Regions from separate parts of the Homo sapiens genome. Here region 1 is linked to region 2. The links come from fine-mapping of genetic effects on gene expression. A gene starts in region 2. The other region holds a variant in brackets. All regions are shown on one strand. Distances are from middle to middle.

The links.
Region 1: its variant is fine-mapped to the expression of GLE1 in whole blood (INTERVAL, PIP 0.97).

The regions. Positions count from the first base shown.
Region 1 is chr9:128,446,517-128,451,038 of GRCh38, forward strand. It overlaps the pseudogene LOC100129352. Among named protein-coding and RNA genes, the nearest start is that of ODF2, 7.2 kb to the right of the region's middle. The variant T/A (reference allele first, on the strand shown) is at 2,121.
Region 2 is chr9:128,502,345-128,506,344 of GRCh38, forward strand. GLE1 (GLE1 RNA export mediator) reads left to right here and starts at 2,375. Exons shown (of 16, transcript NM_001003722.2): 1 at 2,375-2,560. The coding sequence starts at 2,462. RefSeq lists a silencer at 2,186-2,395 and an enhancer at 2,616-2,775.

The sequences.
Region 1 (4,522 bases), 56 kb before region 2:
AAAAGAGAAGAGAATGGTTGCCTGTATTCTTCCTCTGCTCTCCACAGAGCAAGCAGCTGACATTCTCCTGATAACAGCCAGGAACCTCCCTTTCTTTATCAAGAAGGATGCACAAGGGCCAGGCGCCCTGGCTCACTCTTGAAATGCCAGCACTTTGGGAGGCCAAGGCGGGCAGATCACTTGAGGTCAGAAGTTCAAGACCAGCCTGGCCAACATGGTGAAACCCCATCTCCACTAAAAATACAAAAATTAGCCAGACATGGTGGCACGCACATGTAATCCCAGCTACTTGGGAGGCTGAGACAGGAGAATCACTTGAACCTGGGAGGTGGAGGTTGCAGTGAGTTGAGATTGCGCCAATGCACTCCAGCCTGGGTGACAGAGCGAGACTCCATCTCAAACTAACTAAATAAATAAGTTAAAAATAGCCGAGTGTGGTGGTGTGCACCTGCAGTCCCAGCTACTTGGGAGGCTGAGGTGGGAGGATCATTTTAACCCAGGAGTTCAAGGCTGCAATGGGCTATGATCACAGCACTGCACTCCAGCCTAGGTGACAGAACGAGACACTGTAGCTAAATAAATACATGTGAAATGTGAGCTTGCTTCTATGAAAATAACTTTTTATGGCAGGTTTCATGTTTGAAACAGCTACACACAATTTCTGATAACTTTTTATCAGGAGAAATAGGCTTTGTAATGGTAGTCTCTTAAGAAATTCTTGATGGCTACTAATAGTGAGAACCTTTATTCACAGCTGCAGGTGATATAAAATTTGGACCTTTTTAGGCCAGGCGTGGTGGCTCATGCCTATAATCCCAGCACCTTGGGAGGCCAAGGTGGGCGGATCACCTGAGGTCGGGAGTTCGAGACCAGTCTGACCAACATGGAGAAACCCTGTCTCTACTAAAAATACAAAATTAGCTGAGCGTGGTGGCGCATGCCTGTAATACCAGCCACTTGGGAGGCTGAGGCAGGAGAATCGCTTGAACCTGGGAGGTGGTGGTTGCGGTGAGCTGAGATCGCACGCGCCATTGCACTCCAGCCTAGGCAACAAGAGCGAAACTCTGTCTCAAAAAGAAAAAAAAATTGGACTTTTTTTTTTTTCTTTTTGAGACAGTAACATTCTATCGCCCAGGCAGGAGTGCAGTGGCTTGATCACAGCTCACTGTAGCTTCCACCTCCCCAGTCTCAGGTGATCTTCCCACCTCAGCCTCCCAAGTAGCTGGGACCACAGGCACACACTGTGACGGCTGGGTTTTTTATTTTATTTTTTTGTAGAGACGAAGTCTCATTATGCTGCCTAGACTGGTCTTGAACTCCTGGGCTCAAGTGATCTGCCCTCCTTGGCTCTCAAAGTGCTAAGATTATAGGTGTGTGCCACCACATCCAGCCTGAAATGATTTTTTAATCTCTTTCCTTTCCTTTTTTTTTCTTTTTTGAGACAGAATCTCTCTCTGTCACCCAGGCTGGAGTGCAGTGGTGCCATCTAGGCTTACTGCAACTTCTGCCTCCTGGATTCAAGAGATTCTCCTGCCTCAGCCTCCTGAGTAGCTGGGATTACAGGCATGTGCCACCATGCTCAGCTAATTTTTGTATTTTTTTTAGTAGAGATGGAGGTTTCACCATGTTGGCCAGGCTGGTCTTGAACTCCTGAACTCAAGTGATCTGCCCTCCTTGACCTCCCAAAGTGCTGGGATTACAGGCCTGAGCCACTGTGCCCAGCCTCTTTTCTTTCTTAAGCTGTGTCCTGGCTATGTTAGTGTTTATTTTATTATAATCCTTAAACTAAACTTATACATTCTGTTATGGGTTGAATTGCATCCTCCCTGAATTCATGTGTTGAAGTTCTTACCCCCAGTACCTCAGAATGTGACCTTATTTTGTTTTGTTTTGTTTTTTTGAGACAAAGTCTAGCTCTATTGCCCAGGCTGGAGTGCAGTGGCACGATCTCAGCTCACTGCAACCTCCACCTCCTGGTTCAAGCAATTCTCCTGCCTCAGCCTCCTCGAGTAGCTGGGACTACAGGTTCATGCCACCATGCCTGGCTAATTTTTGTATTTTTAGTAGAGACGGGGTTTCGCCATATTGGCCAGGCTGGTCTTGAACTCCTGACCTCATGA[T/A]CTGCCCGCCTCCACCTCCCAAAGTGCTGGGATTACAGGCATGAGCCACTGCACCCAGCTGCTCATTTGGATATAGGGTCATCGTAAATGTAATCCGTTAAGATGGGGCCCTGCTGAAGTAGAGTGGGTCCCTAATCCAGTATATCTGATGTCCTTACAAAAAGGGGAAATTTGGACACAAGCACACACACAGAACACCAGATGGAGGTTGGAGTTATGCTGCCAAGGAACCACCAGAAGTTAGAACAAGGTTGGGAATACATCCTTCCCTGGAACCTTCAGAAGGAGCACAGCCCTGCAGACACCTTGATCTTGAACTCCAGCCTCCAGAACTGCCAGACAATACATTTCCTTTTTTTTTTTTTTTCTTTCTGAGAGAGAGTCTTGCTCTGTCACCCAGGCTGGAGTACAGTGATGCCATTTCAGCTCATTGTAACCTCCGCCTCCCAGGTTCTAGCAATTCGCCTATCTACCTTGGGTGAAAAAGCCAGACCCTGTCTCAAACAAAACAAAACAAAACAAAAATCTCTTAGAATTGAGAGACTTTCAGTTTTCTACATGCAGGGATAGTTTGTCTAGCAGAGGGCATATTCGTTGCTTGTAAGACTGGCAAAATCCCTCCTGTTGTTTATAACACAGTAAACACTGGGTGAGTTTATGCATTCTCAGAAACTGTTGGTTGGGGCTCCAACACAGAAAGACAGCTGTACCTGTGCCATGTTAAATCAGAGAAAAAGGTTGTTGAATAGTAAGTGTAATATGAGTTGATTTAAGTGAAAAATATTTTCATTTGCCTTGAAAAGTCTGTAAGGTACACATTAAAAGGTCAACAGCAGTAAATAGGCCAGCGCAGTGGCTCATGTCTGTAATCCTAGCACTTTGGGAGACTGAAGCAGGAGGATCACATGAGCTCAGGAGTTCGTGACCAGCCTGGGCAACATAGCAAGACCCCATCTCTAATTAATAAATAATAATAACAATAAAACAGCAGTTAACATATATTAAAAAAAAAAAAAAAAAAAGAAACTGTTGGTTGGATATAAACTGGCCTAACCCTTTTGACAAGATTTCCTGTCTTTTTTTTTGTTTGAAACAGAGTGTCACTCTTTTGCCTAGGCTAGAGTGCAGTGGTGATCTTGGATCACTGCAACCTCTACCTCCTGCATTCAAGCAATTCTCATGCTTCAGCCTCCCCAGTAGCTGAGATCACAGGTGTGTGCCACCACACCCAGCTAATTTTTGTATTTCTAGGAGAGACAGAGTTTCACCATGTTGGCCAGGCTGGTCTGAAACTTCTGGCCTCAAGTGATCCTCCCACCTAGGCCTCCCAAAGTATTAGGATTACAGGCGTGAGTCACCATGCCTGGCTCCTACAGTTTATGTTTTAGCATACATAGGATCATATGGTATGTCTTGGGGATCTTCTCCTATTATTACTTATGGATGTACCTAATGCGTTTAAACTGGTATACAGATAACATAGATGTACTATGTTAATTGATTCCTCTGTTGATGCATATTTAGGTTGCTCCCAAATTTTTAACATTACTTTTAGACCCAAAAGTCTAAAAGTTTTAGAAGTTTTTTTTTTTTTTTTTTTTTTTGAGATGAGGTCTCACTCTGTTACCCAGGCTGGAGCACAGTGGCACGATCACTACTCACTGCAGCCTCAACCTCCCCAGGCTCAGGTGATCCTTCTAACTCAGCCTCCCAAATAGCTGGGACTACAGGTTAGTGTCACCACGTCTAGCTAAGTTTTGTATTTTTTTTTTTTTGAGACAGAGTCTTGCTCTGTTGCCCAGGCTGAAGTGCAGTGGCGCAATCTCGGCTTGCTGCAAGCTCTGCCTCCCAGGTTCATACCATTCTCTTGCCTCAGCCTCCCGAGTAGCTGGGACTACAGGTGCCCACCACCACAACCAGCTAATTTTTTTGTATTTTTAGTAGAGACGGTGTTTCACCGTGTTAGCCAGGATGGTCTCGATCTCCTGACTTCGTGATCTGCCCGCCTCAGCCTCCCAAAGTGCTGAGATTACAGGCGTGAGCCACCGGACCCAGCTTTAAGTTTTGTATTTTTTGTAGAGACACAATGTTGCCCAGGCTGGTCTTGAACTCCTGGGCTCAAGCCCAGCTCAGTCTCCCAAAGTGCTAGGATTACAGGCATGAGCCACACTGTGCCTGGCTCCCCAAAAGAAGTCTTTAAAGTTTATTTGATCCTTGATTGGACTTCTAAAGTGAAACTCTCAGAGCATCTATTTTGTGCTGGATTCTGTGGGACATGAAGAAGTGGCCCTTGCCTTAAGAGAGCACCCAGTAGGAGGTGGCACAAGATTTCCGTACACACACGAGTGCTTACAGCAGGGATATTGGGACCCATACCCAGGAGGGAGCCATCAGTGCATCCT
Region 2 (4,000 bases):
TCTGTCATCCAAGCTGGTGAGCAGTGGCACAATGATGGCTCACTACAGCCTCAGCCTCCTGGGTTTAAGCGATCTCCTGCCTCAGCCTTCTGAGTAGCTGGGAGCACAGGTGCATGCCACCATGCCTGGCTAATTTTTGGATTTTTTTTTTTTTTGGTAGAGGCAGGTCTCATCATGTTGTCCAGGTTGGTCTCAAACTCCTGGGCTCAAGCCATCCTCCTACCTTGGCCTCCCAAACTGCTGGGATTACAAGCATGAGCCACCATACCTGGCCTAGAATTCACCCTTTTAAAGTGTAAATATAGGCCAGGCGTGGTCACTCACACCTGTAATCCCAGCACTTTGGGAGGCCGAGGCGGGTGGATCACCTGAGGTCAGGAGTTCGAGACCAGCCTGGCCAACATGGTGAAACCCTGTCTCTACTAAAAATACAAAAATTAGCCGGGAGTGGTGGTGGACGCCTGTAGTCCCAGCTACTTGGTAGGTTGAGGCAGGAGAATCACTTGAACCCAGGAGGTGGAGGTTGCAGTGATCCAAGATCACGCCACTGCACTCCTGCCTGGGCAACACGGCGAGATTCTGTCTCGAAAAGATAAAGTGTATATATAATTCAATGGTTTGTAGTATATTCACCAAGTTGTGTAGCCATCACCATTATCTAATTCTAGACCTAGTTTTTTCTTTTTTCGAAATGGAGTCTCTCTCTGTCACCCAGGCTACAGTGCAGTGGCACCATCTCGGCTCACTGCAGCCTCTGCCTCCAGAGTTCAAGGGATCCTCCTGCATCAGCCTGTGGGGACTATAGGTGCATGGCACTTTGCCTGGCTAATTTTTGTATTTTTTGTAGAGACAGGGTTTTGCCATGTTGCCCAGGCTTGTCTGAAACTCCTGACCTCAGGTGATCTGCCCACCTTGGCCTTCCAAAGTGCTGGGATTACGGCACCCAGCCAACCAATTTCATCACTCCCAAAAAAGAAACGCCATACCCATTAGCAGTCACTCCCCATTCCCCTCCCCCAGCCCCTGGCAACTAGTCATAAAGTTTCTCTGGCTCTATAGATTTGTCTCTTCTGGATATTTCACATAAGTGGAATTGTCCAACATGTGGCCATTCATGACTGGCTTCTCTCAGCATAATGCTTTCAAGATTGATGTTGCAGCGTATCATCAGCACTTTATTTTTATGGCCCCATAACATTCCATTATATAGATGTGGTGTTTCCTCCTGCCAAACAGGGCTGGTTGGGATTCCAAAGAAGCACTATGGCCGGGCGCAGTGGCTCATGCCTGTAATCCCAACGCTTTGGGAGGTCGAGGTGGGTGGATCAACTGAGGTCAGGAGTTCGAGACCAGCCTGACCAACATGGTGAAACCCCGCCTCTGCTAAAAATACAAAATAGCTGGGCGTGGTGGCTGGCGCGTGTAGTCCCAGCTACACGGGGAGCTGAGGCAGGAGAATCGCTTGAACCCGGGAGGCGGAGGTTGCAGTGAGCCGAGATCGAGCCACTGTACTCCAGCCTGGGGGACAGAGCAAGACTCTGTCTCAAAAAAGCAGCATTAAACCCAAAACATTTATTAGGGAAGCTTACAGAGTGGGCTGCAGCAATTCTCGCGACAGACAGAGAGAAGCGGTGTTTCACCTAGGTACATCCCCAGCGAGGGGTCAGGGTATGAAGTTTATATGAGGGTTTATGGAATTTGGCTAAAAGCAGGGGTCAGTTTCAGCGTTTTGGGCAATAACCTAGATATCCTTAGTGCCTAGGGATATGCAAGGCCCGTGTTTGGTTGCAAGTCTGCAGGAAAAAACTTGCAGCTGGCTGGGTCACAGGGCGGTCAAGGCACTCTGATACTTGGTCAGTGCACAGAAAGCGGGGGAACTCGGGAACCGCGCACATAGTACTATATTTTATTTATCCATTCACCAATGGATGGACGTTTGGGTTGCTTTCACTTTTTGGCTATTATGAATAACACTGCTGTGAACATTCATGGACAAGTTTTTATATATACATAGGTTTCATTTCTTTGGCGTATTTTATATATATATATATATTTACCTAGGAGAATTGCTGGGTCAAATGGTAATTGTTTAACCTTTTGAGGAACTGCCAGACTGTCTTCCACAGCAGGTGCTTCATTTTACAGTCCCATGAGCAGTGTATGAGGGTTCCAGTTTCTGCACAGTCTCAAGGCACAGACAAATTTTCAGCAGCCCCGGGGATTGGGAGCGGTGGTTACCTCTGCGGAACGTGCCCCGACAGCCAAGCCCTGCGCGCAGGCGCACTGGTGGGAGGGCGGGAACGCGGGAGCGTCGCCGGAGGTGGGGCGTGCAGGCGTTAGGGGCGGGGCTGTGCTGCGCGCGCGTCCCGGAAGCAGAAGCCTGTGTGGCCTTCCCGGCGGCTGATTCGAGGGCTTGTTTGGTCAGAAGGGGGGCGTCAGAGAAGCTGCCCCTTAGCCAACCATGCCGTCTGAGGGTCGCTGCTGGGAGACCTTGAAGGCCCTACGCAGTTCCGACAAAGGTCGCCTTTGCTACTACCGCGACTGGCTGCTGCGGCGCGAGGTGAGCGGTGGCCCCGGAGGACGTAGGCCTTTCCGGCCCCTCGCGACCGAAACCTTCTCCCTAGCCGTTGGCACGTTCTGCTCCCGGGAACCCGTGCAGTCTAACAACCTGCATTTATTTCTTGACTTCTGTGTGTACATCCCTCTGTCCTGGGGTTTCTGTCCTCTTCAGCCTATTTTAGCGTTTCGGGGAGCTCCCCTGACTTCACAGGTGCCCCGCGCTCTGAAGGCTTCATTGCTACCCTCCGCCAGTTGGGCGCCTTCTCCGTTCTGCTGTTGTCAAAGCAATCTCGGCCCCAGGTTCAGTTAACTTACTGTATGTCTCATGTGCTGGGAGCTCTAGAGTTTGCGACGAACGATTGACACGACCTAATCCATTGCTACTAGTGAAATGACCAAATTTTTAGATTGATTTGGCAGACCTGGAAAGTGAATGGGGGCGTGGTCACCGTACCTAGCATTTGCAAAGCTCTGCGCGAGAAGTGGAGGGATGTGGAGAGTTAAGGCCGAGCTCCCATTCCCGAGTCGCTGCTAGTTAGCTACAGATAAGGCGTTGTCCTGCATCCTCAGACTTCTTGGGAAACAATCCTAAAGTATTTCCCTGTCTTTTATGTTGTTGACAGTTTTGAAAAATACAGACCTTACATTCTGTAGGTTGACTGCCAGCATATGTGCTTTCAAACCACCAGACCAAGGTTAAGCATTCTTGGCAGGAATACCACAGAAATGATGCCATGGCTTTCTCAGTAAGTCACATGAGGAGGCACACAGATGTCAACCCATCCCAACACTGGTGATGCTAATCTTGATCACCTGGTTACGTTATTATCTGCCTGGTCTCTCCGTTTAAAATTCGTCATTTTTCCCTTAGTAATTGTTGGGAAGTAATAATACCAGTATCCTTTTTTCTGGGCAAACCTTAATCCTCCATGGCTTTAGCATTCATTGATGTTTTCCACATGAATCGATACCTCTATGACGTTGCCAGATCCTGTTTCTTTATATCCGCTATTCCTTCTGCATTTGTTAGTTGGCATTCTACTGTAAGGAGGTGCTTTCTATTTTATTCAGTGAGTTGTAATCCATTACTTTTATTATTTATTTATTTTATTTTAAATGTCCCAGATTTTGTAAGCTTGTATCAAAATAATCACATGCAAGGCTAGGCGTGGTGGCTCAGGCCCGTAATCCCAGCACGTTGGGAGGCCGAGGGGGACGGATCACTTGAGGTCAAGAGTTCGCGACCAGCCTGGCCAACATGGTGAAACCGCATCTCTACTAAAAATACAAAATTAGCCGAGCATGGTGGTGCATGCCTGTAATCCCAGCTACTCGGGAGACTGAGGCATGAGAATTGCTTGAACCCTGGAAGCAGAGGTTGCAGTGAGCCGAGATTGTGCTGCTGCACTCAAGCCTGGGTGACAGAGTGAGACTGTGTCTC